5 linked regions of the Homo sapiens genome follow. The protein of the gene in region 3 purifies or fractionates together with the protein of the main gene of each other region. This does not show direct contact. Each region holds a gene or a part of one and is shown on either strand. Other genes may lie near its edges.

What was found.
Region 1: the proteins of SLAMF8 (region 3) and ULBP2 purify together in Homo sapiens (affinity purification with mass spectrometry; one large-scale study listed by BioGRID and IntAct). This does not show direct contact.
Region 2: the proteins of SLAMF8 (region 3) and ITFG1 purify together in Homo sapiens (affinity purification with mass spectrometry; one large-scale study listed by BioGRID and IntAct). This does not show direct contact.
Region 4: the proteins of SLAMF8 (region 3) and DSG4 purify together in Homo sapiens (co-immunoprecipitation; one large-scale study listed by IntAct). This does not show direct contact.
Region 5: the proteins of SLAMF8 (region 3) and NRBF2 purify together in Homo sapiens (co-immunoprecipitation; one large-scale study listed by IntAct). This does not show direct contact.

What each region holds. Positions count from the first base shown.
Region 1 is NC_000006.12:149,944,461-149,948,378, forward strand, and holds part of ULBP2 (UL16-binding protein 2 preproprotein), read left to right. Parts: intron 1-848; coding exon 849-1,112; intron 1,113-1,911; coding exon 1,912-2,193; intron 2,194-2,859; coding exon 2,860-2,969; 3' UTR 2,970-2,991; exon of another isoform or gene 2,992-2,996; intron 2,997-3,918. UniProt on the Homo sapiens protein: Binds and activates the KLRK1/NKG2D receptor, mediating natural killer cell cytotoxicity.
Region 2 is NC_000016.10:47,450,154-47,455,210, reverse strand, and holds part of ITFG1 (T-cell immunomodulatory protein isoform 1 precursor), read left to right. Parts: intron 1-1,052; coding exon 1,053-1,198; intron 1,199-2,420; coding exon 2,421-2,478; intron 2,479-3,740; coding exon 3,741-3,815; intron 3,816-5,057. UniProt on the Homo sapiens protein: Modulator of T-cell function. Has a protective effect in graft versus host disease model.
Region 3 is NC_000001.11:159,824,788-159,830,518, reverse strand, and holds the start of SLAMF8 (SLAM family member 8 isoform 1 precursor), read right to left. Parts: upstream 3,647-5,731; 5' UTR 3,621-3,646; coding exon 3,581-3,620; intron 654-3,580; coding exon 327-653; intron 1-326. UniProt on the Homo sapiens protein: May play a role in B-lineage commitment and/or modulation of signaling through the B-cell receptor.
Region 4 is NC_000018.10:31,385,577-31,390,276, reverse strand, and holds part of DSG4 (desmoglein-4 isoform 2 preproprotein), read right to left. Parts: intron 3,590-4,700; coding exon 3,458-3,589; intron 1,911-3,457; coding exon 1,755-1,910; intron 1,404-1,754; coding exon 1,259-1,403; intron 1-1,258.
Region 5 is NC_000010.11:63,135,794-63,140,850, forward strand, and holds part of NRBF2 (nuclear receptor-binding factor 2), read left to right. Parts: intron 1-5,057. UniProt on the Homo sapiens protein: May modulate transcriptional activation by target nuclear receptors. Can act as transcriptional activator (in vitro). Involved in starvation-induced autophagy probably by its association with PI3K complex I (PI3KC3-C1).

The sequences.
Region 1 (3,918 bases), on a different chromosome or scaffold from region 3:
TTCATCCCATTACTCTGGGAGCAGATTTCAGGAACAGCATCTCCTACCCCCAACCCTGGCCTTCAGCAATAGGCATCCCTAAGCTTCATTCCATTCTGGTGCCTTCTCATGGGGCCTTCTTTATATGCTGGGTAAACAGGAGTCCTCCAGGTTTCCCATAAGCACAGTGGATGGACATTGTTCTGGATTTTCACACTTAGACCCCTCTGGCATGGGCACTTCTCTGAGCCTGTGATCTCTCCCTCCACTACCTGCCTTAGACTTTCAGATTTTCCATTTCTTGCTGTGTGGACCATCTCTTTGTCCAAGGTTTCAGGAAGGCCTCCTCATAGCAGATGCATGCCATCACCAGGGGCTTTGCCAACATGTTAAATCCTGTGGCCATGATAATTAACTCTTCTTTATCCAACGGGGTTCCATCCTCACTCTGTTCAACCAGCACCAGCATCCACAGGGGTGGACCCACACCCTCTCCCACCTCCCGCAGTCCACGTGGGCTACTGCTGAAGATCCTCTGCCATCCAGGCCCTTCCTCCTCTCTTGCTAGAGAGGCCTGGCACCTTTCTAGCAAGGTCACGTGTTGACTGATGTGGGCAGAGGGGCAGTGGGACATGTCTGGGGACATGTGGTTTCTCAGCAGACAGAGACTTCCTCCTCCTCCTCCTCCTTGTCCTCATGCAAGGGGCGAGCACTCGCCTTAAACTTGTAGACACCACAGTTCTGGAGGGGGCACTCCTTCCTGGGCCAGCCCAGCCTGCCAGAGGCATCCTCTTATTGACACAGCGTGGAGGGGGGCTAACTAGGGGTCTTTTCCTCCCCACCCACCCCTCACCTGCCTTTCTCCACAGACCCTCACTCTCTTTGCTATGACATCACCGTCATCCCTAAGTTCAGACCTGGACCACGGTGGTGTGCGGTTCAAGGCCAGGTGGATGAAAAGACTTTTCTTCACTATGACTGTGGCAACAAGACAGTCACACCTGTCAGTCCCCTGGGGAAGAAACTAAATGTCACAACGGCCTGGAAAGCACAGAACCCAGTACTGAGAGAGGTGGTGGACATACTTACAGAGCAACTGCGTGACATTCAGCTGGAGAATTACACACCCAAGGGTAAGTTTCAGATGGCCCAGGACAGCAGGGAACAGATACAGTGGTAGGTTAGAGGCATTTATAGTTTTCATGTAAAAATACAAAAGGGTCCTGGGCACGGTGGCTCACGCCTGTAGTCCCAGCACTTTGTGAGGTAGAGGTGGGCCGATCACAAGGTCAGGAATTCGAGACCAGCCTGACCAACATGGTGAAACACTGTCTCTACCAAAAATGCAAAAATTAGCCAGGCATGGTGGCGCATGCCTGTAATCCCAGCAACTTGGGAGGCTGAGGCAGGAGGATCCCTTGAACCCGGCAGGCAGACGCTGCAGTGAGCCGAGGTGGTGCCACTGCACTCCAGCCTGGGCAACAGAGTGAGACTTTGTCTCAAAAAAAAAAAAAAAAAAAAAGCCAGGTGCAGTGGCTCAAGCCTGTAATCCCAGCATTTTGGGAGGCTGAGGCAGGCGGATCACGAGGTTAAGAGATCGAGACCATCCTGGTTAACACAGTGAAACCCTGTCTGTACTAAAAATACAAAAAATTAGCCGGGTATGGTGGCGGGCGCCTGTAGTCCCAGCTACTTAGGAGGCTGAGTGAGCCGAGATCGCGCCACTGCACTCCATCCAGCCTGGGTGACAGAGCGAGACCCTTTCTCAAAAAAAAAAAAAAAATACAAATGGGAAGGTCATCATACCCCTCAAGAGTCTAGAGGCAAGGCCAAGATGTAGCAGAGAGAGTAAGGCCAGCAAATTGTAAGGGGAACAGGATGGGGGTGCAAAATTTGTCAAGATCAGAGCTGATCTCTCTCTGATGGGGGCAGAACCCCTCACCCTGCAGGCAAGGATGTCTTGTGAGCAGAAAGCTGAAGGACACAGCAGTGGATCTTGGCAGTTCAGTTTCGATGGGCAGATCTTCCTCCTCTTTGACTCAGAGAAGAGAATGTGGACAACGGTTCATCCTGGAGCCAGAAAGATGAAAGAAAAGTGGGAGAATGACAAGGTTGTGGCCATGTCCTTCCATTACTTCTCAATGGGAGACTGTATAGGATGGCTTGAGGACTTCTTGATGGGCATGGACAGCACCCTGGAGCCAAGTGCAGGAGGTAACAGGAGAAAAAGAAACGGGGATCTCAAATGTGATCAGAAATGGTGACCTCAAGAAGTTAGTTCTTGAGTTCAGCTTCAATCATCCCAGTATACACATTCACGTTAAAATGACCTCCTCGTGGGGCGCTCCTCCTGGGGTTACTGGCATGCCTGTGCTCTCCCACCGTCCTCTTCCTTCTCCCTCCTGACTCCTATTCCTCACTGCACTTGCTCCTGCTCCCCGCCCTGTGGATTTCTCACCAGCCTTGAAACTGCAGGTGTCACTGTTTTCAGACCTTTTTCCTTAGTGTTTCCTCTTTTGAGAATCACTTTTCCTTTCCTTTCCCTGGTCTGGTTCTGGAAATCCATCAAAACCACTTCCAACGCCAGCCCAGAGATCCTCCCCTCCCCAACTCTGGGGCATCACCTCCTCTTCCCCCACAGCAGGAGGGTGGGGTGTGTTGTCACCTTGCTTCCCTCAGCAGCTGTGTGAGCTCCCTGAGGACAAGACTCACCCCGTCTCCCTTCCTAAGCCAGGACCTGTCATACTGGCTGCCCCACACCAGGGGGGAGAGGACAAAACTTTTGCCTTCCAGGATGACCTAGGGTGGCAGGAACTGAGGAGGTGTCTCCTCAGATTTGGGGCCTGGACAAGGGTTGTCACTTTTGTGTTTCCATTTCAGCACCACTCGCCATGTCCTCAGGCACAACCCAACTCAGGGCCACAGCCACCACCCTCATCCTTTGCTGCCTCCTCATCATCCTCCCCTGCTTCATCCTCCCTGGCATCTGAGGAGAGTCCTTTAGAGTGACAGGTACTGTGGGCAGAATTGGAAGTGGAGCAAGGAGCAGGTGGGTGAGGAGGCAGGATGGGGAAAGAGAATTCCCGGAGTCCCGCCCCTCCCCGTGGCTGGGACCTTCTCATCCTAACATGAGACAGGTGAATGAGACCTTGTGTTGCCTGTTGGCAATGTTGGCAATGACCTGGGCAGCTCAGCCCTGAGTTCTGATGGATTCTCACCTTCAGAGTCCAGAGGGAAAGGGAGGGGCCCATACCAAGGCTCAGGGTCTGTTGAGCTTGAGAAGGTTTAGCAAGTTCAGGCCTGATTCAGAGCAGGTTCCTATTCAGGAAGGGTGTGTGGCCTGCAGGCAGCAGGAATTCAGACATGGGCAGTCCTCTTAATTGGGTTAGGTGCATCATGGTAGCTTTACATGAGGTGTGACAGGGGAAGGGGGATTCCATCTCTGAGGCTAAGAGAGATCTGGGTGTAATCCCAGGAGGAGGGGGCTGGGAGAACCTTGGTACACCTAATTGAAAAGGAGGGAGTGCAGGGCTGCCTTCCCACAGAAAGTGGCTTGGGTTCCAGGAATTAAGGTGGAAGGTGAAGAGTAGAGGCTGCTCAAGAGAAGGATTTTTAAAAAGTCAGTCCCATGGACATGTGCAGCTCGAGTCTGGGCCCTGAGGCAGCTCCCCTGCCATCATCCTCCTGCACACCCCAGATCCTGAGCCCACTGATGGCCCTGCCTGGAGCAGAGTGGACTCAGAGGAAGGGGGGTCTGAGCTGCTGCTGGGGTTCCACAGGCACCACTGGGCTGGACAAGGAATTGATAAGGTGGAACAGGGACAGTCACCTTCAGAGCAATGGGTGCTGCTCCCAGTGTGAGGAGAGGCTCAAGAAGAAGGGGAAAGAAGGATGTTTGCCTGCAGGCCCACCAAAGGCCAAGGGCACAGGAATATGGAG
Region 2 (5,057 bases), on a different chromosome or scaffold from region 3:
GTATTGCCTAGTGGGACTAGTCTACTATCTTTTGCCCTGCATGTATGTTCTTGACAGACTAACATTCTAGAAATAGGGTAGAGCTGTGGGCAAGGGTTAAATTGTTCCTTTTGTAGACTTTTGGTTAACTCCTGTGTCTAGCTTAAGGCCAAAACCTTACCCATTACTGTAATTTAAATCCTTAATTCCTGAGACTTTCCAGAAATACACCACTTGGTTCTTACCTTGCTGAGTGAGAGGGAGAAAGAACTACCACTGATGCATTAAGAAAGTAATTATCTATAGTCTAATTGGAAATTTGCTGTCTTGCTATTTCATCTGAGTAGAATTAAGTATAAAATGAATTAAAGGCCTAATTTTTGCTTGGGTCGCTCAGATAATAAGACTGCAGGACGTTAAGCTTTCAAGATTCATATAAATAATTTTAGAATTATTTTGTTAATAAAAATATATCAATACCTATGAAAAGGAAAAAATAAAAATATACATATAAAGTTAGATATATATGTTTGGATGCTATATTGATTGCCAAGTTTCGTTAAAAAAAATTCCATTCTTAATTTACTAGCTTTCAGAAATAAAATGATTCTTTTAATTTTTACTGTAAATTTTGAATTTATGTTAAAATCCAAACTAAATATTTTATAAATAATATCTTTTAATTGAAAACATCCCAGTGATAATGCTTACTGCTTTGGCAATTATGAGCCTCCATTTGTTAGAAACACCATCCGAATGTCTTGGTGTCCTTGACAAAGGAACTATATAGAAGGGCTATACTAGCCATTGCTTGAACATAATAAACACGTTTTCTCTCGACATATTTCAGATTTGTCTTGTTTCTTGAGACTATTCTGCATTCATTCTGAACTCTTTTTTAGACCAAAGAGGTCTAAATACATGATGGATGAAAAGATAGGAAAGAGAAGGCAATCAGTCAGTTCTGTTAAGTTTTAAGTTTTTCATTGAAAATATTTTTGTGTGGTAGAAATACAGAATTGTCCTTTTCCATTACAACTTGTCTGATATTTGTAAATGCTTGTTTCTTTTAGGAATCACAGTGCATTGATAACAAGTGTAGTCCCTGGGGATTATGATGGAGATTCTCAAATGGATGTCCTTCTGACATATCTTCCCAAAAATTATGCCAAGAGTGAATTAGGAGCTGTTATCTTCTGGGGACAAAATCAAACATTAGGTGAATTTGTTTTAAAAATTTTTAATATTTATCATTGAATATGAAGGTAAATGTAACAAAATATTGTTCTGAAATCAGTTCAAAAATACTGTTCTTGGGTGTCAATAATTGTAAAACCTTTTTTCAAAGTTTATTTCCTGATTTTTCTTTTTCAACCCTGAACTGGGCAGGGATCACTTCTACTGACAAACTTCATTCTTACTAGCTTAAAGAGGACAGAGATTTATTAAAGGATTTTAGTGGCTCACAGAATCATTGAGATGGCTAAAGAATAAACTCTAGGTTGAGCTTTCAGGAGCAATCCCAATATCATCAAAAAAGCTACTGCCTCTTTCCCCTATCAGAAGTGGCTAGTTACACAACTGCTGCCAGAATGATGCTGTGCCTGCAGTGATTCTCACTAGCAAAATGAATGCTGCACCTGGTCTCTTGATACTCCCAAATTCAGTGAGCAGACACAGATAGAAATAGCAGAGAAACAGCCTTTACCTCATTCATGCCTTTAAGACTCACAGTGTATCTGATTGGCAAGGCTTAACTTTTATTCAGCATCTCAGATGCCACAATATCTGGAAAATGCTATTTTTGGTTTCTAGTCTCCTTAGCACAGGAAAGCACAAAAAAGTTGAAGTATGGTTCGAGAGTCAGTCTACCATACCTAGTCACAAATCATCAAGCCTTATCTGAAAAGCCAATTAGTTATACCTAAATAGGCAACTTTGTTCATGGAGCCAAATTTCAGTCATGTTTTCTGCACCATTTGGGAATGTAAACAGTAATCGCGATACATTATATTCATTAAGTCAATAAATATTTACAGAGGGAGTACCATGCACAAAGCTTGTATATAAGCATGTACATTTTAGAACCAGGAAGTTTTGCATATGTGGCCTTCTTTACACCAAAACCTTGTTAATTGTCAACCTCTCTAGCACTAAATTGTGTAAAGACAAAGACTCAGCTAGCAAATATTTAGATGCATACCTCAAAAGGAGGTTATTGTAATGCTAGTCTTCACTGTAGAATGTATTCTCCCAATATTTTGTCTTTGCAAGCTTGATGTTCATTTGAACTAGATTTATAGTATCTCATTAATGATAATAGTTGGAATAAATCAGAGATAAATCTAGAAAAGAGTAGAAGAATATTTTTTCCTAAGCATAGATATCAAAAGTAATATAAAATGCCTGCTAATTCATATATATATATATCTTTTTTGCAGATCCTAACAATATGACCATACTCAATAGGACTTTTCAAGATGAGCCACTAATTATGGAGTAAGTATGGGCTTGCTTCCTTTGAAACGATTTTAAACTTAAACATAAAATAAAATCTTCACATAGGAAACTACTTTGCTTAGTAATAAAAATACTAAATTCACTCAGAGGCCTGTACCTTTGATTATATTGTATTTATTTGCCATCAGATAGGACAAAGAAAAATGAAATTTATTATTTTGGAAAGTAGAAGAGATTTGTGTTTTTATTTCAGTCGCTTCAAATGTGTCCATTATGGATCTATGCTGTCATTACTGAAAGAATTAAGATACCTGTTTTTGAGTAAAACTGTTATATTTGATATTTAGGATACAGTTTCCTCTAGAAATTTAGAAAGATTCCTATATTAAGGAGAAATTTTTGTTCTTTTTATAATATAACTCCTGCTTTGTGTTATCATTTATATTCTCACTGTAGACTCATGTACCAGCATAATTGATTTAAATAATTGATGTAAATTTGGATTTGCAAATTTCTGACAGCGTATTTTGGTAGAGGTCGAGATCATTCCCGGGACTAGAGCAAAGTTTGGCCACATTCTTGTTTCCAGTACTGTCTTTCTTACAGTTATTAAAATCATACCCATACAGCAGTGTGTCAGTGGCCATTAGAAGTCTGAACTGTAAATCCATGGATTAATCTTCTTAACGGTGCCCCGCTAGATTTCTTTCATAGTTGTGTATTTTTTCATTGTTGTTAAAATATTCAATGGCCAGTATGAAGTTTTATACCAACTAGGATTATTTTTCTAGGTTATTTCTCCTAAGCCCATCTAAGTAAACAAGTTGGCTTAGGATTCTGAAGTAAGTTTCTAGGAATTAGTGCTGTATCCTTATCATTCAAGGGTAGTCTAGATAATGCAAAGATTACAGAGATACCCAAAATCTCACAAAACGAATTTATTTCTTGCTCTTACTATATGTCCAGTGTGGGTCAACAACAGGCTCTGCTCTGTGCTGTTGCTTAGAGTCAGGCCATCAGAGAGCCCACTGTCTTTGTAGCTAGTCCATCTGAATCACAATGCCTTCTCATTGCCATGGCAAGCCTGGAGAGGGCTGGAGGGGCTGGTAACAGAAATTATACACTTTGGCCTAAAAGTGACACATGTCACTTGTGCTGACATTTGACTTAATACTTATCACTAGATACTGGCGAGCATTGTAATGTCTACCACACTTCCCAAAAGTTACTGCTTCTTTTAAAGCTAAATTAGAAGTAAGAATTTAAAGAAATAGCTGCTTATTGTTTTAATTTTTTTTCAGTTTCAATGGTGATCTAATTCCTGATATTTTTGGTATCACAAATGAATCCAACCAGCCACAGATACTATTAGGAGGGTGAGTAAATATGGTTATAACTATGTAATTAATCGTATATATTGCTTCTACTTTAACCATTGGAGAAAAAATAGCTCATTGGAATCCTTGTTTTTAAAGATTTTTAAGTGGGCATTTGGTTAATATATATAAGCTTTCTCAAATAGTTTGGATTTGGCCTGCACCTGCTTTCCAAGGGCCAGCTTACTCCTTTTATCTCTTTGAAAAATTAGAGATTGAAACTTTACGGGTCCCCATTTAAATATTGGTTCATTAAATGTTTTTGAAATGGATAGATTTCACGTAAATAGGGAGGATACCTGCAGTCTTGAGTGGATCCTCCCTATCTTAGTACCTTAGTCATGTTAGCTGCTAGACTTTAATTGATAAGATTTGTTTCTTTCTGTCATTTGTTCAGTGAGCAGTCAATAACGGTCTAGTAATATAAGCACTCCTCTAAGCTCTGGAAACTTGTCAGTGAATACATTGTCCTTCACCAGTATGTGTGCTAGGCCTCTCTTACTATCTAAGTATGCAATTCTTAGGGAAAAGTGCCTGGAATCTTGCAATTCCAAGATATCCATTGTAATTACTCTGGATTTAAATAGAACTGGTCTCGTAGCACAAGAATTCCTGATAGCAAGATACTTTTCATAAGATACCTTCAACCCGGTTAATTTTTTTTCTGTATCTGATAAGGTAAAGTTTAGTTCAAGAGTACAGAACACATTTATTTACTTTTTTGTCTTTCTGAAAGTACAAAGGACCACCCTTATCAATCTGTCTTTCCCAGCTACTTGGAACTCTAGTGACTTTTCTCTTTGTGTTTTATAGAAATAGTTTGTTTTTATGATTCATTTTTGAAATGTGATTTGTAGGTATGCAGAGGAGTAAATTGTGAAAATTTTTAAGGTATTCTGAAGAGACACTTTAACATTTCCTATTACTTTTTCTGGTTTACAGCCATACCACCCTGAACGCGCCCCATCTCTTCTGATCTCGGAAGCTAACCAAGGTCAGACCTGGTTAGTGCTTGGATGGGAGATCACCTATTACTTTTTCTGTAGGTTTTTAATAAAGAATATGGGTGCTTTGATGCTAGTAATAGTGAACTTTGAAATAATTATTGTGAATCCTGAATGAGAAACCTGTTTTTTTCTCCAAAATTTGAAAAATATCTTGAAGAGAGTCTTGCTTTAGAGACAAATTGGAAGGAGATCCTGATTTGCTTTTGTGGCCGTATCCAAGAGGAATTGAGTGCAG
Region 3 (5,731 bases):
CTCTACATGGTAATATTACAATGCCCATTTACAAAGGAGAAAGGTGAAGGCCAGGGAGGCTAAGCATTGTGTCCAAGGCCACTGAGCCAAGAAAAGACTGAGCTAGAGTTCAGGCAAGCACTGTGAAATGGCAAAGCCTGGCTGCTGCAGCCAGGAGGAATTTTCTTAGACGTGACTGCCAGGGAGCAGCTGTTCCCTGAGTCGGCAACATGGTCAGAGACCAGAGCTTTCTGGAACCCAGCTCTCCCTGGCTGCTATGACTCAGGATGCTCGTCTGGTGCTTTGTGGGGGAAGAGGGCCAGGCAGCCAGTGTCAGACACACTCACCGTACACCTTGAGCTGGAGGGTCTGGGTCCAGGGCTGGCCCCTTGTGTCCACCATCAACACGGAGAAGTTGCCGCTGTCTCCAGACTCCAGCGGCCCGAGCTCCAGGCTGAGGTTGCTGTGTAGCTGGGCTCGGCCCAGGAAGCGGGAATGGTACAGAGTCTCCAGGGAGCCTCGGAAAAACGTGGCCAGGAGCTCTTCTGAAGGCCAGAGAGATCGCCAGATAGCCTCACGGACTTGGAAGCCAGGGGGACGCGCTGCCACCAGCAGCACCGAGCCCCCGACTTTGCTCAGCACTTGGGCACCAGTAACTGTAATGGGAAGTAGGGCTGAAAGAACAGAGCCCCTGGTCACTCTGCCTGCCCCACACTCCTCATCCTTCTTTGCATGCATCTGAGCTGCTATAGGGTGAATTGGGGCCCCTCCACTGACATTCCCTCCACTCAAGTTGAGGTTGCACTGTGCTAGGTACCAGGGATAAAACATATGGAAGATAACCCCAGTCTCTGCATTCATGGAACTTACAGAGGAAGCCAGACATTCAAGAAATCAATAAAAATGAATTCTGTTAAATACCATGAAGGGAAAAATGAGATGCCCTGGGAGAACACAGGTAGGGTGACAGGGGATCTCACCCAGCCTTGATGGGCTCAGAAAACAAATTGTTAAGCTGAGCCTTGAAGAGGAATGGGAATCAGCCAGGCCAAGCCGAGGGCGGCCTGGAGCAGGATAGGGAAGTGTCACCGGCAGAGGGCACAGTACTGACAAAGGCCTGGAGGGGGAGAGTTGGTGCCCAGGGGAACTGAGAGTAGTTCTCTGTGTGAGGAGTAGGAAATTACACTGCAGAGTTGGTAGGAGTCAGATCATGCAGAGACCTGAAAGCAATACTGGAGTTTGGGCTTTATCTGTAGAGCAATGGGGCGTCTCAGGTAGGTTTTAAGCAGGAGCGTAACAGGATTAGATGCATGGTTAGAAAGATCACTCCAGCAGGGATGTGGAGAATGCACTGGAGGTGGGCAGGACTTAGGCTGTTCATGTTAGTCCAGTGGAGAAGTGACGGCAACTTGAATTGAGGAAGGGAGCAACCGGGATGGGAAGAAGTGGGAGGAATTGAGAAACACGAAGATGGTGTGTAATCAGTAGGATTTGGTAATAGATTAGCTCTGGGGAGTGAAGGAGAAAAAGGAGTCGAGGACGGCTCCCAGGTCCTTGGGATCCACTGGATGTTATTCTCTGTGATCCAGAACAGGAGGAGAAACAGACAGGGGGTGAGAAAGCAAGATGCTGTTTTGGGGGACTATATTTGAGTCAGACGTGTATGGGAGACGCTTCTCCTTGAAGTGCCCCCCTGACTCCTTTGCTGACTAATTTCTGCCCACTCTTGTAGCATCACTGCCTCCTCCGACCTCCCCTATCCCTCATAGGTAATGTAACCAAGAGAGGTTACATATTCTCTCTTGTGTTCTCACAGTGGCCTGGGGCCACCATGCTGACTACCCTTATCCCTCTATTCTTATTGCCTGTTTATGAGTCAGCATCTCCCACTAGACCGTGAGCTCTTTCTCCCCATCGTTTGCTTCCAGTGCCCACCACTGTTTAAGAACAGACTGTGGGAGAAGCCTAGTAAATGGTATTGAATAAATGACCTACCCTGCTGAGGACTGACCCTATGCCTGTCGCTGGCACAGGGTGTAGGGAAGAATAAGAGGTGATGAAGTTTTGGTCAATGAGACATGATCTGGATGGTTGCTCAGTCGGCCATGATAATTCCGGTCCCCCTCTGCCTCACTGTCCTCCAGGCCCAACAACCTCCTCTCACACTGGAGATGACTTCAGTGTTAATGCAGAGCAGGAATGTAACACACAAAGAGAATTGCACTGGATGTCAGCCAAGACCTAGCTGCTCCTACCTGCTCCTCCTGGTGCTGCCACAGATCAGCTGTGTGCCCTTCCACACATCACCCTGCCCCAGGCTTCAGTACCACTGAAAAATAAGGGGTCTGTACCAGGTCAGTCACACAGATCTTTGATCATTAAGGGCCATTTGAAAAATTATTTTTGGGCTGGGTGTGGTGGCTCATGCCTGTAATTCCAGCACTTTGGGAGGCTGAGGAGGGCGGATCACTTGAGGTCAGGAGTTTGAGACCAGCCTGGTCAACATGATGAAACCCTGTCTCTACTAAAAATACAAACATTAGCCGGGTTTAGTGGCAGTGACCTGTAATCCCAGCTACTCAGGAGGCTGAGACAGGAGAATCGCTTGAACCCAGGAGGCAGAGGTTACAGTGAGCTGAGATGCACCATTGCATTCCAGCCTGGGTGACAGAGCAAGACTCCGTCTCAAAGAAAAAAAAAAAAGGCAAATTATTTTTGTCTCACCAAACAGACCAAGGCCTTTTTTGAGGTTAAGGTGTGATTTCCTGCACATGTTTAGAAATATTGAAGAAATCTGCAGGCTTTGGAGCTCTCAGGGCCAGGAACTCAGGCAAGGAGATGAAACAAAGCAACCCAAAGTCCCTATGAGCCTCTGATGTAAACAATATCATCTTAATCTTTGCTGCACCCCATAAACCCTCATCCATGGCCCGGCAGTGTTGACCCATGTCATGTTGGCTGCTTGTTGACCAAGGAAGGGAACTCAGGCATCAGATGGATAGAGGGATCGCCCGGTGTGGAGGAGACCCCGTGTATCAGCCATCCCAACATCACACCACCGTCGGCCACCCCTAAGTCCACGTGGGCCACATTTAGCCTCTCTCATCCCTACTTAGTACTTGCCTCCCCTTATAAAGGCCTGTAGGGAGGGACCTCAGCTCCCCCACAGGCTGTTGAAAACACACTCTGCTGATTGTGGGGAACCCTGCTCTGCCCTGCCCTCTGCTACTCTCCTCAAACTCTGCAGAGTTTCTGCATGCTAACACTGCCGGGTCCTCACCATTCTCACAGCCGACTTTCTCTCCAAACCAGCAGTATCACCCACTGGCTCCGTTTTTACTGCTCTGGGCCACAAAACAGCTCATGTCTCACAGATAAGAATACCCCTCAAGCTGCCACCTCCTCCCTCCCAGGACCCTGCATCTCTTTGTATCTGCCTAGCTTAAAATGTTGCCCAAGAGCTTGTTCTAGTCTTTCCTACCCACCCTCAGCTTCTGGGTTCTCACCCAGGTCGAGGGATCCCTGCCCAGACGTCTGGCATAGGCAGCTGGGGAGGGGCCTTCAGCTCTCCGAGGACAGGCTATCTGCCTGCCCCACTTACCTTCCCAGAGAAGCAGACTCCACAGGGGCCTCATGACCATCTTTCTCTGGAGAGGCAGGCAAACTCCCTCGACAGCCAAAATCCAGAACCTCCCAGGCCGAGTGGATGCACGGGAGGAGCTGTGGTCCTTCTGGAAAGTCCCATGTTCAGAAGGAGGAATCTTGACTCAGAACAGGATGTCCCAAAAGTGAAAACATCCAGAATAAAGTGGAAGTTGTCCCTGGGCCTCTCTGGGCTTACAGGAGCAGATTCTTGTAAGTCAGCCTCTTTCACATGCACATGGTTGGCTAACACGTGGCGACAACAGCCCCCACACAAGCCACATCCTCCTTGCTGGATCTCGCTGGCCTTCCTGCATCTCAGCCTGCCTCACTACTATCTGTCATCCTCATTCTAGCTTAAAATGCTTCTGTGGCCTCCCGTGGACCTGAGGATGAGGACTAACTCTGCTCTGCATGCAGGCCCTCCTGAGTCAGGCCTTCTTCTCCAGGCTGGTCGCCCACAGTCATTCTGCCCTCCAGCCATCCCAAGCCAGAAGGCCTCCTTCTCAGAACTACTGATTTCACACTTCCCTGTGTTGTACTTTCCCCACCACCCCGACTAGGCATGCTGCTCCCTCTATCCTTGCAAACAGAACATGGCTGTGCAGTCGGCGAGGACATCCTTCCAGGCTTCCTGACCACAGGCAGGTGAGAGGCCCTCTCCTTGTGTCCTGTGCATGCCCACACCTCCCTCTTTACTCTTGCTGTGTTGTTGATGACAGTTTTCTGGTTTTCACAGACTGTTTAGCCAGTCTTTTGTTCCCTTCTGTGTTGCCCTCAGTGCTTGGCACATTACAGATGTTTCATGAGTATTTGTTAAGTGAGTGAGTACATTCTAGACATGGCTACACATCTGGCTTTATGTAAGCCTTGCAACTCTCCTCTGAGAGGATCATCTTGTTACCTGGTTAGAAATGGGAAAATGTGAAAACCAGAGTGAGGTTAGGCCCCTTGCAGAGCTCACAGAGAGGCAGAGCTGGAACTTGAACCTCAGCCTTTGAAGTGTGGTCTATTTTGCCACAGTTATCCCCTCCTCATCCTGTTTCTCTTCTCACTTCAAGTTTCTTGGTTTCTTGCCAGTGAAGGTTTTTAGAGGACGTGTTGCCCCTGAGGAAAATTCCTGCTAGTCTGGAGTGTGGCTCATCGTATCTGGTCCTGCACAGCCTCTCGCCTGTCAATCAAACTGGACACTGAGCTTTGGACTCAGCCAGGAACTAGGCATATAGGATGGGGTGGGGGTGGGTGGTGAGCAGGAGGATTTTGGGATAAGGTTTTTGCCCTCCAGGTACTCACAACCAAAATGTAGAGATAGGTACACCAAGGAAAGTGAAGGGTTATCTGCAGACAGACACCACTTTGTGCAAACAGGTAGTCAGTCCTCAGAAGTGGGTGGGAAAGAGGGCTTCGCGGATCTGGGCAGGGGACGCTTCTTGAGAAGGTGGAATTTGAGCTGTGCCTTGAAGATGGGCATGGTTTAGATAATATGAGGAAAGGAGAGAGCCAGAGGTTGGGGGTGGGCTCTGGGCAGGAGGGGAGAGCAGAGCGTGCAGGGATGTGGCTGTGGGAAAATACCAAGTAGGCTCCACAGAGGACAAGGGACAGCAGACAGGAATCCTTTAGGGCTGGGTGGGAAGAATGGAAAAGGAGGTTGGGGGCAGATTGTGGAGGCCTTGAAAACTGGGTTAAGTTCTTCTGGAGACTAGTGGCTCTCAACTGTGTTCAGCACTTGGATTCTCAGAGATGCCATCAGGGTGAGCTAGGGCCCAGGAATCTGTGGTTGTAACAAGCACCCCACTCAGCGTGAGTCTGTGGCTGGTGGACTGGGGGACCGCTCCGGAAGCACTGCTTGAAGAGAGGGGCTGTTGCATGTTTTAAGTAGGAGTGGGAGGACAGCAGGCAGGGCAGGTTGGAGAGAACAAAGGGGCCAGGGAACCTGAACAACAGCTGTTGTCTGTTGTGATGGTCCTGTGAGAAGGAGAAGGGACTGCATATGAAGGAAATGTCTAGAGTACTGAGGAAAGGGCAGAACTGGGAAGCTGCCTGTCATGGGGGTGGAGAGGGCAAGGGAGGGAACTCATTTACGACTCCATTGCCAATTCCGTCATTCATT
Region 4 (4,700 bases), on a different chromosome or scaffold from region 3:
GAAAATTATAGTTTAATTAAATGCAACATTATAATTATGTATTGAACACCTATATTCTTAATTGCCACTTTTCCAGAAAGCAGATAATTACTCTTGGTTGCATTGGAAGATAGCATTTTACCAAACAGTCACAAATTTATAATTATTGAAAAGAAGACTTGTCCATAGCAATATAAGAAGTTCCTAATTACTCATAGGTAGAAAGAACAGGTATCTTAGGCAAATCCCCAAGGATGTCAATCTACAGGACAGACTTTTCAGAATTGTCAGGTCCCTGATGTTCTTTTGCTTCCTAGGCAGGGAGACTTGGTTGTGGGTTTCACCTTCTCTTCCTTCACCAGTGTTGTTTTGAGGTGTGTTGATGAGGAAGCAAAGATGGACTTCGGAGTCTCTCTTTGTGTTGGCTCTCCTAGGCAAAATCTCTTTGCCTCTCTATGGGAGGACTATCCTAGTTCAAAAAAAAATTTTGTGTTTATCTGCCTTTTTTCCTGAAATTTATTTTTCCTATTATTTCCCCCCAAATTTGTTTAGAGGTATATGGGCAGACATAGATTTGAAAGGGAAAGGGACAACAGGGGTTTGGGGAACAAACTGATATTCATGTGCTGTATGTAAAATCAAGGTCAGAAGGCAAAGGGAGAGGAGAGATAGGAAAGTAGCCATATAAGAAAAGCATAAGAGTAGGAAGGAAAGAAGTTCAGGAGAATTAATATAAAGGAAAGACAGAGGGTATTAGAACTGGAAATGGAATTAAGTGGAATGGAAAGAAATGAAAGAAAATGAGAGAATAGAATGTAGTTTGCTATGTAGTCTGTGAAGATCAATGATTACCCTTAGTGATTGATCTGATGGGTACAATTGCGTGTGCTTCCACCATCACGCTCTACCTGGTGTGGGTCAGCCAAACATTTTGAGTAAGAGACCAGAACAGAGCCTTCTTAAACATTCCTGGTTTATTCCTCAGTTTGCTCGCTTGGATTTAGTTCTTCATGAGCCCAGTAGCAATCTTTAAGCAAGGTGCTAAGCACCTGCTAAATCCCTGTAGGGACCTTCCGCAAGTAAGAAGATATTTTATTTTATCATTTTAGACATGATTTCTTTTTCTAGCTCAGTTATAAATTAAAATATGTGGGGTTTATTCAAAATACAAGTGTGGCTTTTTCTGTCCTTTACATTTCCTGTATGTCAGTCCTCTAAAGCTTTTGACCAAGAGAAGTAGATATGCTGTGACGTAGAGAAGGAATGTCATTCTACTTACTGGCATCACTATTTTCTTCAATGCTGGCTGTGTATACACTTTGCGAAAAGACTGGAGCGTTATCATTTATGTCCATAACTTTGACTCTAAGCTCAAGAGGCCTTTCTAAATCTTCACCCCGTGAATTCAGAGCCCGGCAATAGATCTGTGGAAAATTGGAAAAAAGCCATCTTTTTCCACCAAAGGAATTTTAGTAACATGCTTGAAAATATATCAGAAAATAGGCAAAGAAACAATTTTTTCCAGTGAATTCAGACTGTAGTACAGTCAAATAATTTAAATATGATCAGGACACTTGACTACATGTACATGCAACATACCAGAGAATCCTGAACTATAAACTTTTATTTTCACACTCTTTCCATTCCTTCAAGTCTTCTATTTGGGTTCAGTCTGCCATGTTTTATCAAAAGTAATCCATTATCTTAAGATAATATTTTTTGAAAAAGGGAAGAAAACTAATATGAACAAATCAAAACATATGGCTATGACTTACCAAGAAAAGTGGAGTTATTTCTCTGTCTACCACTGAAGTGATGTTAATTTCCCCAGTGCGAGGATTAATGGTGAATACCCCATATGGTGGTCGATCAATCCCTACTCCAGAAATCCGGTATGTTATCTTCTGGTTCGATTCGCAGTCTGATCGAATCTATAAGAAAAATAGCTAGGATTGTGATCCAGTTTAGAGCAGATAATGCTTAAGAGTGTAGTGGAATAAGAAGGGAGTGGGTTTCTTTACCAAATGGGCTTTGGATTGAAACCTGACACCATGACTTAGTCCTGTGTGACCCTGGAAAATTTACTTAACTTTGCCCAGATCAGCTTACAGTGGGGATAATATCACACAGATTTGTTGTGGGAATTACATGAGGTAATGTGTATAACATACACACTTGGTGCTAGGTTTGTTGTTAATAACACATTGTTCAATTCTCTGATTTTTTAGCATACGCAGAAATAGCTTCACAAAAGAAATTACAACATTTACTATTTTTTAAAAATAACTTGTGTCATATTAATAAGTATCCTACCTAAGCTGGAGTCTGAGATTTAGTCAAAATGGTAGATAAGTTGAGAATATCAGAAAACTATAATGGTTAGAGATATTTGTAATAATTTTATAAATGTAAACATACTGCATCACTTTTCTGCCAAATAGATTTTATGGCAAATATTCTGCCACACAGATTTTGCTTTAGTAGCTTTATTACCTATTGCTGATAAATTTAAACTGAAACAATTTTGAAATCTCACCTATATACTAACGATAAGAGCATTCAGTAAAATAGTAAGATTTTTTACCCACACATTCACAGTCAAATAAAGACTGCTGGAAATAGAACTTTGGTTAGCTTAACTCTAATCCAAAGGCCCTTTTTACATAGAAGAAAACTCAAGAACCTCCCAAAATGCAGAGAAAAAGAAAAGAATATGCAATATAAGTGGAATAACATAAAGCAATTACTGAGTTGAATGGAAATAATAATTTAAAAGCGTCCCTCCAATTTGAAAACATCTGAGAGAGAATACATCTGTTTTCTTGAGCTGAGGTTGTATCTGTAACACCACTGCTGATGCTTACTATGTTTTTAATATAAAGCTGGAAGGAGGGAATTCTGCAGATCACTTTACTGTTCAGGATCAAGATGTCCAGAAAGAGTGAATGAAGCTATTAATGTGGATCCCATCCTTCCTGGATCAATTTATTACACATTCTTTAACTCTCCTTCCTTTTCAGTAGGCATTATTTGTGAAAGTCTTATAAGACTCTCTTATTTTCTGGATGTAGAGATCTGGTGGGAACTTTTGATACTATCCTTACTTTCCTGGAGTTAATTCATCTAGTGCAGTAAACTTGGCTTGACTTTCTGGAGGGCCAGGCTTCAGACTGTCACTATGTGAATACGTTTCCTATGACATTGACAGGCAATAATGAGCAGTACACAAATGGATGAACAAAGCCCAGTTGTGCTGGAGATCCAGCCCTTTCTTCTAGAATCACTTGCCATTGACTGCCTGCCCCACGTCAGCCTCCCTGCACATGATATTCAAATCAGTGGCTCAGCAACTGGAGCAAATGACCACATTCTGTCTTCTTAAATAACTGTGGAGCAGTGAAGCCTGCAAATCTTGGAGATATTTGAAAGCTTCCCTGCTCTGCAAAAGCATTTGTCATCAGATTGCTTCATCACTTACTTTGGCAATGGGGTTCCTCTTCGAGTTGTCCTCTCCTTCTCGACAGGCTGCGGCAAACTTGATCCACTCCCGCTTTTGTCTTCTGACTGTTTGCCATTTTGTAGTGCCATTTTCAATGTCAAATTCCTTCACCTTAAGCAAAAATGGTTCAGGTGTCTTACAGTGTGAGAACAATTTTACTTAGAAAGGACATTTATTTAATATTGTAAGGTGCATTTAGAAGAAACAGTGATATTGAATTTGAAGAACAGAGAATGTTTTCACCAATTCACAACTCTGGATAGATAGATAGCTTGGTTACCCCTGGCTGCCACTTCTTTTGGAATCATCTTGGTTCCAATTATTTGATTCTAGTGAAACAAATTTAATTAGCTACTTGAGGAGCTCATGATGTGCCATACTGTATAAGTTGTGCAGTTTTCCTTTTCTCAATCTATCTTCACCATATAGGAGCCTTGCCTATCTCACCCTTCATTGAGCTTTCACCAGAATTTACAGACTGCAGAGTTTAAAGATTATCATTGTTCCATGTATGCACATCCCATATAACATAAAAGTTGTGCTGGTGAGTCGTGCTCACCTAAAAGAGAGAAGAGCATTTTTCTCTTCTGTTGATAAGGACACCACTGTGGCTAAGCACCCAAGTATATTTTTGCAGAATTAGAAACATATTATTAATATTGGAGGAATTGATGATTCCTCCAATAATCCCATGGACACCTATAAGGCTTTGCAATGCTGTCATTTGTATCTGTGCTTGCTATATGGTTTTTCTTTCGTAGCCTTAAGTTGCTGCTATTGATGTATACTTAAGAATTTCATACTATTAATGAGATTAGAAATGTCACTACATGTGCAAGCCTATTTGTATACATGCATAAACTATATATATGCACGTATTTATTTTTGTAAGTCCTAATGTACCCCCTGAAACACAGGTGATTATAAGTTTACTTAGGCTAAGCTTCATTTAATTACCACTTTGGGGGAAGGAGGTGTTCCACTGAATGAAGCATATATTACAACCAGAGTATTTACATTATTTCTCCATTTTGATACGACTTACTGAAATGTACCACCTATTCCCTATTTCACCAAAAAGATGAGAAAACTTTATTTTTTCCAATGATTTGAGGGGATCATAAGGAAAATTTAACTATTATAATAAAATAAAGCTCTGCCAGAGATAGAGGACAGCAGCTCTATTTCCTGAGTTCTACTCTAAATGGCACTAGATTATATG
Region 5 (5,057 bases), on a different chromosome or scaffold from region 3:
GCGCCGCCACGCCCAGCTAATTTTTGTATTTTTAGTAGAGACGGGGTTTCACCATGTTGGCCAGGATGGTCTCGATCTCCTGACCTCGTGATCCCCCCGCCTGGCCTCCCAAAGTGCTGGGATTACAGGCGTGAGCCAGCGTGCCCGGCGGACACCTTGAATTCTTAAACCATTTGAGTCTTGAAAGATCTAATTTCCAGCATAGTTGTTTATTGGAAGGTAACAGTAGAACAGACGTTGACGGTTACTTGAATGAGTACCAATTACAGGCCTCTGGCACTCAGAATTGTCACTCACAGTTTTATAAGATGAGGTTTTTGAAAATTCAGACTTTTTTTTTTTTTTTTTTTCTTTTTTGAGACGGAGTCTCGCTTTGTCACCCAGGCTAGAGTGCAGTGGTGCGATCTGGGCTCACTGCAGCCTCCACCTCCCGGGTTCAAGCAGTTCTCTGCCTCAGCCTCCTGAGTAGCTGGGATTACAGGCATGCACCACCCTGCCCGGCTATGAAAATTCTGACATTCTTTTATGTCAGTGAACACCTAACTTAGTATCTAGTTGACTCAAGATGAGAGTTCTCAATGCTATAATTTGAATGTCTTTGAAAATTCCACTAGTATTATACAAGCTTTTTCTTTTTCTATACTCAGAGAGTTACTAATGCAATAAGCTTTGTCAAATGACGTCGTAGTGTAGTCCAAATTCATTGTATAAGGACTTATCACAGTACATGGATTTGTAATCATGTGTCCTCAGAGCATCCTCGGAACTTAGTAAGGTGTGTTTTCCAGTTTTACAGATAAATAAGCCTAAGCTGAGAGAATTAGGTAATTACTTAGGTCAGTAACTTAAATACATTATGAATCACGAGTTATTTTGATATCAAGACCTCTTTCTAGCAATGCTGCCATATTGTACTCATCATGTTCATTTCAGTATGGTTCTCATCTATATTGAACTGTAGATTCTGTGTTAGCATTTATTACCTCTGCTCCAGTATTGATTCTTTTATGTTAGGTTTGGCAGTAAGGGCCTTAGAAATTCCTCACAGTGAATTTTTAAGATCTGGAAGAGACTAGTTTGAAATATTCATTTTAATATGTACCACAGAGGTAATGGATTCTAATTATCTGGTTATTGAAGTTTGTCAAAAGAAAAATTGTACTTCCACTGAAGAAAAAAATAGCTAGTCTTTGCACTCTGAATAACTTTGTTTCATTAGGGTTTTTTGGTCAATTTTTCTTTAAGAGACAGGGTCTTACTCTGTTGCCCACACTCAAGGGATCCTCCTGCCTGAGCCCTCCACAATAGCTGGGACTACAGGTTTGCACCACCATGCCCAGCTAATTTTTTCAAAAACTTTTTGTGGAGATGGGGTCTTGCTGTGTTGCCCAAGCTGGTCTTGAACTCCTGGCCTCAAGCAATCTTCCTGTCTCAGCCTCCCAAAGTGTTGGGATTACAGGCATGTGCCACTGTGCCCAGCCTGTCAGTTTTAAATATGGAAAAATTATAACTTATAAAATTAGTGTATATTTAGATATTTCTTTCCGTACACATTTTGTCAGTGTGACTACTGGTAACAAATGTCAAAACTCTTGTGAGATAATTTCTAGTTCTTTGGTTTGTTTGCTGCTGATTTGGAAAGTGATGTCAGATCTTAATTTATATGTGGCTGTTGCTCATGTTTTGCTTACCTCTGCTGCAAAGGGCAGGGTCCATGTGACTGCCTGGCCACAATCGTTTTCTATGTGTTTAGCCCTTAAGAGTGCTGAGAATGTTTGTTGAGTAACAGCTTCCCTCCAGAGTGGTCAGTTCTCACATCACATGAGGTAGTTAATGAAGCCTCTTACTTTCCAGCTTCTGTAAGAAAAGTAGTCAGATATCATGGTCCAAGGAATGGCCTTATGCATACCTGGAGTCCTTATACCTATCCCATTTTAATTATATTGGCTTTAAAATCTTCAAGGTAAAAAGAGGCAATTTGAACCCCTTCTTTGTTGCCCTGAAAAATTCCAAGGAAAATTTCTTTGTCACAAGCTGAGCTAGGCATAATGAAAGCACTCTGGAAAAAGGAGGTAGAGAGTACTAAGAGATATCCAGCAATTATTGCTAAGTGGTAGGATTGGCATCGGGCACGTTATGTATATTTTTTATCTTTTCCTCTTAATAGCTAAATATGAGATATTCCCCCTATTTTAAAGATGAAGACTTTGAAATGCAGGGTAAGTGGTGATAGTAGGATATGAAGGCAAGATTGGGCTGGGCACAGTGGCTCATGCCTGTAATCCCAGCACTTTGGGAGACTGAGGTGGGTAGGTCACCGAGACCAGCCTGGCCAACAAGATGAAACCCTGTCTGTACTAAAAACAAAAATTAGCCAGGTGTGGTGGTGGGTGCCTGTAATCCCAGCTACTTGGGAGGCTGAGGCAGGAGAATCGCTTGAATCCAGGAGGTGGAGGTTGCAGTGAGCCAAGGTCACGCCCTTGCACTCCAGCCTGGGTGACAGAGTGAAACTCCGTATCAAAAAACAAAACAAAACAAAAATTAGCCAGGTGTGGTGGCACATGCCTATAATCCCAGCTACTTGGGAAGCTGAGACAGGAGAATCGCTTGAACCTGGGAGGTGAAGATAGTGGTAAGCCAAGCTCACGCCACTGCACTGCAGCCTGAGCGACTGAGCGAGACCTTGTCGCAAAAAAAAAAAAAAAAATTGGGAGGCCAAGGCGGGCAGATCACGAGGTCAGGAGATCGAGACCATTCTAGCTAACACGGTGAAACCCCGTCTCTACTAAAAATACAAAAAATTAGCCAGGTGCAGTGGCGGGCGCCTGTAGTCCCAGGTACTCGGGAGGCTGAGGCAGGAGAATGGCCTGAACCCGGGAGGCAGAGCTTGCAGTGAGCCAAGATCGCACCACTGCACTCCAGCCTGGGCGACAGAGCGAGACTCTGTCTCAAAAAAAAAAAAAAAGTCTTTCCTGGAATTCTCCAACACTTGAGCGCTTATCTTCAGTATAATTGCGTTATATTACTTAGTCAATTCAGTGCTTATTGATTTGAGATAACTGTTTGCTACTTGTTTGTAGGAGACGCACATTGATTGGGAAAGGGGGAGTGAGTGAGGTTTCTCTTTCAACTGAAGACCCTACCATAAGGTCAGGTGTATGTTAGATTTTCCTCTGCTGCCTTTTCAGTGCTGTGTTCATATGGTGTTCCTTTTCTTTTTTTCTTTTTCGTTTTGAGACAGAGTATCACTCTGTTGCCCAGGCTGGAGTGCAATGGCGTAATCTCAGCTCACCACAACCTCCGCCTCCGGGGTTCAAGCGATTCTCCTGCCTCAGCCTTCCTTGTAGCTGGGACCACAGGCGCGTGCCATCATGCCTGGCTAATTTTTGTATTTTTAGCGTAGATGGGGTTTCTCCACGTTGGTCTGGCTGGTCTCGAACTCTTGCCCTCGTGATCTGCCCACCTTGGCCTCCCAAACCAAAGTGCCTGGATTACAGGCGTGAGCCACCACGCCTGGCCTGGTGTTCCTTTTCTTTTCATCTTTACTTAACAGCTTTCCCCAAGGACACAGAAAAAAATAATAGAAAGTAATACTGTTTTCTTTTGGGAAAGAGGGTAGTATTGAACATGTATTTTTGAAGCAGTTAGCATGTGGAAGTAAAAGGTACTTGTCAGTGATGGCAGTCACTTAGTAACCTAGTTGTTGTAGTTAGGATTTTTGTTGGTTGTAGTTGATGAAAACCCACTTGAAATTAGCTTAAGCCAAAAGAGATAATTTACTGGACTCCAAAGAAAGGTGCAGGAAGGGCAGGGGTATAATGTAGCTTGGTTTATGACCGTATAGAGCCTGTCAGTCCGACTTAATCAGACTCTCCCTCTCTTTTTTTGCCTTTTCAGGCTTGTCTGCTTCACTCCTCCTTTCTGCAGACCTATATTTCCACCTGGCTAGCCTCTGAATGTCACATTAATTAGACTTTCTTCATATTGTCTGCTCCTAAGTTTGAAAATCTGGAGAAGGGATTCTTTAGGTATCCAGACGACAAGGTAATACAACAATGTGGGCCTGGTATGGTAGCTCACACCTGTAATCCTAGCACTTTGAGAGGCCGAGGCAGGTGGACTGCTTGAGCCCGGGAGTTCAAGACCAGCCTAGGCAACATAGTGAAAACCGGTCTCTACCAAAAGAAAAAAAAAAATAGCTGAGCATGGTGGCACATGTCTGTGGTTCCAGCTACTTGAGAGGCTGAGATAGGAGGATCACTTGAGCCCAGGAGGTTGTGGCTGCAGTGAGCCGTTATCATGCCACTGCATTCCAGCCTCTGGGTGACAGAATGAGACCCCATCTCAAAAAAAACAGCAAGGAAATCATAAGGAAGAGAAAATATAGTTCTATACTATAGTTATCAATACCATAAGTTTATGTCAGCTGTTTACAAAACGAATCATCTGTCAGAAATGATGGGCAACCACAGCTGTAGACCTCAATCTAACGTAACCCATCAAGCAATTAAAAAAGAATGTGGGAAGTCCCACAGAATCATATGGATTGCCTAGGAAGTACACAGAGGTGGGACTGCTTTATTGTGAATTTCTTTGAATTACCAGAGAAACATGTTTATGGACTTACTACCCTTTTCTTTTTGAGACAGTATCTTCCTCTGTCCCACAGACTAGAGTGCAGTGGCGTAATCACGGCTCACCGTAGCCTCAACCTCCTGAGCTTCTGATCCTCCTACCAGTCCCTCCTGTAGCTGGGACTACAGGTGTGCACCACTACACCCAGCTAATTTTTCTATTTTTTGTAGAGATGGGGTCTCACTATGTTGCCTATGCTGGTCTCAAGCAGCCCTCCCACCTCGGCCTCACAGAGCGCTGGGATTATAGGCATGAACCTCCGTGCCCAGCCTATTACTTTTTTTTTTTTTGAGATGGAGTCTCACTCTGTCACCCAGGCTGGAGTGCAGTGGCGCAATCTCGGCTCACCACAACCTCTGCCTCCCAGGTTCAAGCGATTCTCCTGCCTCAGCCTCCCGAGTAGCTGGGACTACAGGTGGGCG